2 linked regions of the Homo sapiens genome follow. The main gene of each other region encodes a partner of the protein of the gene in region 2 in a complex. Each region holds a gene or a part of one and is shown on either strand. Other genes may lie near its edges. The genes, in order: SEM1 and ERCC5.

What was found.
Region 1: ERCC5 (region 2) and SEM1 share a complex: the UniProt entries of both Homo sapiens proteins name them as parts of the homologous recombination repair (HR) complex.

The regions. Positions count from the first base shown.
Region 1 is NC_000007.14:96,690,479-96,693,100, forward strand, and holds part of SEM1 (26S proteasome complex subunit SEM1), read right to left. Parts: intron 1-2,622. UniProt on the Homo sapiens protein: Component of the 26S proteasome, a multiprotein complex involved in the ATP-dependent degradation of ubiquitinated proteins.
Region 2 is NC_000013.11:102,852,375-102,856,204, reverse strand, and holds part of ERCC5 (DNA excision repair protein ERCC-5), read right to left. Parts: intron 2,449-3,830; coding exon 2,333-2,448; intron 1,918-2,332; coding exon 1,831-1,917; intron 154-1,830; coding exon 93-153; intron 1-92. Other genes in the region: BIVM-ERCC5 protein, read right to left, coding at 93-153, 1,831-1,917, 2,333-2,448. UniProt on the Homo sapiens protein: Single-stranded structure-specific DNA endonuclease involved in DNA excision repair. Makes the 3'incision in DNA nucleotide excision repair (NER).

The sequences.
Region 1 (2,622 bases), on a different chromosome or scaffold from region 2:
AAAAAATTGAGGCCACCAAGTACAAAACAAAAACACTAATAATCATGAGGCTGCTGAGTGGAAAAATCAACAAAGACAAAAATAGAAAACCTCAGCACAACTGTTAATATCATACGACATACACAGTGAACATACACTATCTGAAACGAAAACAGCAGCAGTCTTTGTGCAACAAAACAAGAAAAAAGACTAATGGCCACTAGTAGGTTTGAAAAGTCCTCTTACTATCCAAGAAACTACTCAGCTTTATGACAATGGCTATATCTGATTTGGTAAATCAGGAACTATACTGGATTTTTTTGTTGTTGTTGAGATGGAGTCTCGCTCTGTTGCCCAGGCTGGAGTGCAGTGGTGCCATCTCGGCTCACTGCAAGCTCCACCTCCCAGGTTTATGCCATTGTCCTGCCTCAGCCTCCCTAGTAGCTGGGACTACAGGCGCCCGCCACCAGGCCCAGCTAATTTTTTTGTATTTTTAGTAGAGACGGGGTTTCAACATGTTAGCCAGGATGGTCTCGATCTCCTGACCTCGTGATCCACCGGCCTCGGCCTCCCAAAGTGCTGGGGTTACAGGTGTGAGCCACTGCGCCTGGCCTATACTGGCTTCTTAGAGTTTTTATGTAAGACGTGAAATAGGGTTGAGAAAAATCATACTACTACCTATTTCTCTTAATACATAAACAAATGATATCAGAAGCTGCAAAATCAGAATGACTTTGAGTTACCTGGAAGAACAAAGTGGCCTTATTCTTTCTACTTCTGTTAAAGGTAATTACACGGAAAGAGAAAGACGAATGTGGAAAGTGGGGGGCCTGCGACATGGACAGTTTTTATTTAACACACACACACCACAGTCTAAGCACTCTACACATGTTAAATCACTTAAACGTTATAATAACTCTAGCAGTAAAGCACTAATTATCATCTGAGTTTTATGTGTGACAAAAGTAGGTCACAGAAAGGCTAAGTGAGTTGCCCAAGGTTCATATGGCTAAATAGGAGGCAGATCTGGGGTTGGAACCCCAGCAATCTGATTCACACTAGAGTCTGAGATGCCTCTCCACTGTTAAATAGGATTAGGACCAAATAACATCAGACAACAGTAAACTCCATTCTTTACCATGACTTATGATATTATGTTAAGGGTTTCCATGTACTTTACAGAAAAGACTAGGAAGAATAACTTTGTGTGAGTCTTTTAATCAAGACAAATTTTTTAAAGCAAGGATTGTGCGAGGCTGTTTTATTCAATATGGTAGTCATATGTGGCTATTTTAATTGAATAAAACAAAAAATTCAGTCCCTTAGCTGTGCTAGCCACATTTCATGTGCTTAGTAGCCAAATGTAACTGATTGCTTCTATACAGCAGCTTCTCAAACATTTCCATCACTACAGCAAGTTCTATTTGACACCACTGGCAATGTGGCAACAATCTTAGTGAAGAAAGAACTCATGACTCAAATGGGGAAATAAAAAGAAAAATCTTATTCACTAATGGAGGCATCAAGATTTATATACCTCAGGCAAAAAACAACAACAGTGAAAAAACAACAAAAATAGATTTATATACCTATAGAAATCCACAAACCTAAAGGCAGAAACACAAGAGTACATAATGGCACTGTGGGGGTGTATTATAAAAACAGTAAGCCACAAATATATAATGTTCTATTTCTAAAGCAATAAAAAGGCAACATGTAATGATGTGAAATCTAATTATCAATACATTTACTACTGAAAGTTTCTTGGTAAAAATTATAGTATTCAACAATGTATCAATCAGTTTTAAGAGAAAAGTGCTAATGAAAGACATAAAAGAAACAAAACTTCAAAGAAATTTGACTATTTTGAATGTCAAAGGAAGAAAACTTGTTTAGCCTCAATTTCAAAATGTCAAAAACATATCAGGAAGAAAACTCTGACACGTGATTAAAAACACAGAGTAGAGATCAACAGCATTTGGAAGACCTGAAAATAAATAGTCTAATAGCATAATGATGCCAAGGCGGAACAAAAGGGAATGTATATTTTTCAAAAGCTAGTAGGGTGTTCTCTAATGTGGCTCATTTTTTGAAGGACATAAAACAAAGACAGATATAAAAAGAAAGGGCATGAGCTTGTACACATAGAATTAATCTGATCCTCGAAATAAACTGAAATCTGTAAAAAGAACAGAAGGGGCTTCTAAGAGCCATATACTGATCATGAAGAATGAGAAAGAGCAGGTACAATGCTTGGAACAGATGATGTAACATTAACAGATTTTAGAGAAAAAGCAGGATTATTGTTCAATAGCTATCATTTTTATCTTGTCCATAAAACTATAAAAGGAAAAACAACATAATTAAGACAAAATTGAAAACTAAGACAGGTAAGATAACTGCATTAAGGCAGTTTAAAATCTCAAGGCTCTGGATAATTACATCTCAGGGTACTAGAAGAACCAAAAGATGTAGTCAAAAATCAGTCAGCAATATTTGAGACACGGAAATGAAAAACTGTAGAAGTATCAGTATAACAGTGAAAGGTAAATTATACTATTTCTAAAAATGAGAAAAAAAGTAGATAGGTAAAATTATTATCAGTCTCCAGCAAAATTCTAAGTCTTTATAGAGCCAATAAAA
Region 2 (3,830 bases):
TTCACAGTTTGATATACCTCATTAATATTCATTTTCATGTCATTCATTTCAAATAACAGAATACATTCTGAATTCAAAAATGATCTAAATACCTGTAATGCTTGTTTTTGATTCATTCTTTCTTGCCATTCTTTTTCATCTTCCTCTTCTGAACTGAAAGTCAAACATACTTTTACGATATCTATGATTTTTAAGGACCCCTTACAAAAATACTTGTATGCAAGGCTCTGCTCGTTATACGGGCTACAGTGGTGAATAAAACAGCAAGATCTGTGCCACTACTGGTCTCATGGTCTGGTGGGGGACACGTGTAAGTAAGCAATTAGAGTGGGATCTAATAACTTCCACCACAAGGGAAGGGCAGGTCACTAGAGATGCAATAGGGAGTCACCTCACCCAATTTAGGAGTCACAAAAGCTTTCCAGGATCTCCTGCAATTACACTGGTTGGAGTTAGCCACGAATTAATGAGTGTAGTTGTAGGGAGCGGGAAGGTTCATGGAGAAGAGTGTTCCAGGCAAAAGAACTAAGTTGTATGACCATATAGAAACAAGGAAAAGAAAGCCTGCCTGTGGATGATGTGAAGAAAGGCAGGGATAAGACTGGAAAGTGTAATTAAGGAGTTAAAGTTTTATCCTAAAGAAATGAGAAGCTAAGCTGCGTGTGGTGGCTCACGCCTGCAATCCCAGCACTTTGGGAGGCCGAGGCAGGTGGATCACTTGAGGTCAGGAGTTCGAGACCAGCCTGGACAACATGGTGAAACCTCGTCTCTACTAAAAATACAAAAAATTAGCCAGGTGTGGTGGCACGTGCCTGTAATCCCAGCTACTCCGGAGGCTGAGGCAGGAGAATCGCTTAAACCCAGGAGGCAGGGGTTGCAGTGAGCTGAGATTGTGCCACTGCACTCCAGTCTGGGCAACAGAGACTCCATCTCAAAAAAAAAAGAAAGAAAAAAATGAGAAGGAGAAGCTAGAAAGTGTTTTAAGTAAGGAAATGACAATATCAGATTTGGATTTTAAACAGACTATAACACAAAACAGAGATTGGGCTTGGTGGGAGGAACTATTACAAAAAGGGTATGATCAAAGACAAAGACAGAAAGAAGTTTAAAAGCTAATAATGTAACCTGGAGAAAAAATGACAGTGGTAGCAATGGAGACAAATAGAACTGAGCTGATACAAAAGCTAAGTTGTCTCTTGGGAACTCCTGGGAAAGGAAGAGGTGGAGGGAAGGACAGGGGACAAAGGCAAACTGCCAAGCTTCCGGTTCTCCACCTTCACTTCAAACACAGAAACCACCAACCATTAAGAGAGAGACAGAGGAAGAGGAGTCCACAGAGAGGCTGAGCAGAAAGCGCCAGAGAGATGCCGGGGGAGCGGGGCAGTGTGGCATGGTGTTTAGTGCAGAGAAGTCGAGCACACTAAGACGTGCAAAGCGTCTGCTAGATTTAGCAACAAGAATGTCATGGGTTGTGGTATTTTAGCATCATGGTGAGAGAGACCATACTGGATTGAAAAGCAGCTAGAGACAGCATGTGTAAGCAAAGTGTAAGCAAAACTAAAATTCATGCCTTGGAGAATTTAGAATCCACAGCCCTGGCAGAAGTTCTTTAGAATGAAGAGGAATAAGAATCATGAATCACCAAAACACAAAGAATAGTAAATAAAAAATTTAGTCTTTGAAAAATATTCTGAAAGGTATAGAGCATGCCTATTTCAGATGCATTAAGAAATGTTCACATGCCTTATCATGTAGATAACACATCAAGGTTTAAATGTGTCTGAATGTAGCAATGACTAAAATAATATTCTTAAATAGTTAAACATTTACCTGTGTTTTTCTTCCTCTTGTAAAGGAGGCAAAACATAGAGGTCGTTTTCTCTTCGAACTTGGGTAAGACTGGGTAGTGCTTCATCTCTGGAAAGTACACAAATCTTTAAACAGATTATGCAGACCCTGCTCAGGATGGTGAACAGGGACCTGACCTGGCTGCTCTCAGGCCACTGCTGTGGAAAATAAATGCAGCCGAGAGAAAGGAAGGAACCTTGGCGGGGCTGCTCACCTAGAGTCAAGAAGACCATAATCAAAGTAAAAAGTGTACATGACGCAACACGACAGCTTTTTTTTCTCATTAGCAAAGTTGATTCTCACAGAACGGAGAATTGCCACAACTCCAAATTACCAGGTCAAAATGGCAGCCTACTTGTCTCATTTCACTCTCTATTTTCTGTTGAGAGTCAAAATTAGATAGGGAAAGAGAATCGCAGGAAATCAAGACAAAAATCACTTTTTTAAAACTTCATCTCTAACACGACTATAATTTTCCTCTTGCCTTTTGCTTCTGAAGGCAGTTTTGATGGCTTGTCTTTTCAAAAATGTTTTCAGAAGCTTCTCTGTCGTTTTCCTGGAGTCACTGGACGCTAAGTCCTTTCTCTGCCTTCTCTTCACCTATGAGAAGAAAGGATGTAAGATCTCACTTCAGGATATTAGACCACTAGAAACATTGCTGTGATTTATTTTCCAGAGAATTTGGTTTGTCTGAGTTTTCAGACTATGGCTGCTTTAGCATTTCCTCCTAATTGCCATATCAGTGTATATCTTCAGGTTGCTGCTACGTAAAGGACACCCAGAGTTTCCATCTATTACTTAATGGGCTACTACACAATATATTTGGGAAACTTAATTTACTTTCAGTTTCTTTTAAATGTCTTTTAATATGCCCAAGAAGTGGAAAGCTTAAATGCTTCCCAAAAGAAATTATTTATTTATTCTATAAAATGTCACAGTGACACCAAAAACAATTTCTAATATTGCTTTTTATAAACATGCATTACTTACATGTAATTCTGCCCTTCAATATTCAAGATTATATATCATGAGAAATTCTAAAATGTATAGAAATATCTTGTAAGAAATGTTCAAGTAGTGACAAATGGATAGTCCCTGTGCTTATGGCTGAATATCGGATAAAAATAACCAAGATATTCTCTTTTCCTTTCTAATCCTTCCACAAAGTACCTGATTTACAGTATGCCTTGGGTAACTGAAAACTGCAACATTCAAGACTAGACACTCTTACTGAGGCAACAAAGGTCCCCCAGCATTTATAAATGCTTTTTATTTTTATCCTATATCCTTACTTTTATCCTATATCCTCATTTAGAGAGTATCTGGTATGATTACAAAGTCATCATTTCATTACTTTGGTATTTTCAACAAATAAAAGTCATATATCCAAATGGGTGCTGTCATTTGGACTGTTTAAACATTATTTTATGTCATTTTTTTAGAGATGGGGTCTCCCTGTGTTGCCCAGGCTGGACTTGGGCTCAAGCAATCCTCCTGCCCCCGGCCTTCCAAAAACATTTTTTAAAACTACTTCCAGAACAATAAAGCAGCAACTCATTCTGACTCTTCTATATCATGGTCAATTTCCTTCCTAGATAATCCACTTTAGTCACCACTTGGCACCACATAACATTGCTTACTCCTAAAATCCAATTCCCCTTAAAAGAAGGCTTGCTATCACGGAGGATACTTGATCTCAGATTCAGGGAGGCACTTCCCAAAAGAGGGTTTCCACAGTGTTCTGAGTGATGGCCGCATCCTTGAAATAAATATAAAACACCTAACAAGATCCTCTGAAGGGAAAACTCTCAACAGCAAGGTTTTTAGTAGTTAGTTTTATTTAAAAGTTAAATTTTATCATTGTACCCATGATGAACTCTCATAAAACTTTTTAAAAGAAAAATTAATTGTTCAAGATAAAAAAGTAGATGTAATTAAGTATGTGTCAAAATAAGTCTGTTTCTAAAATTCTAAAGAGAAAA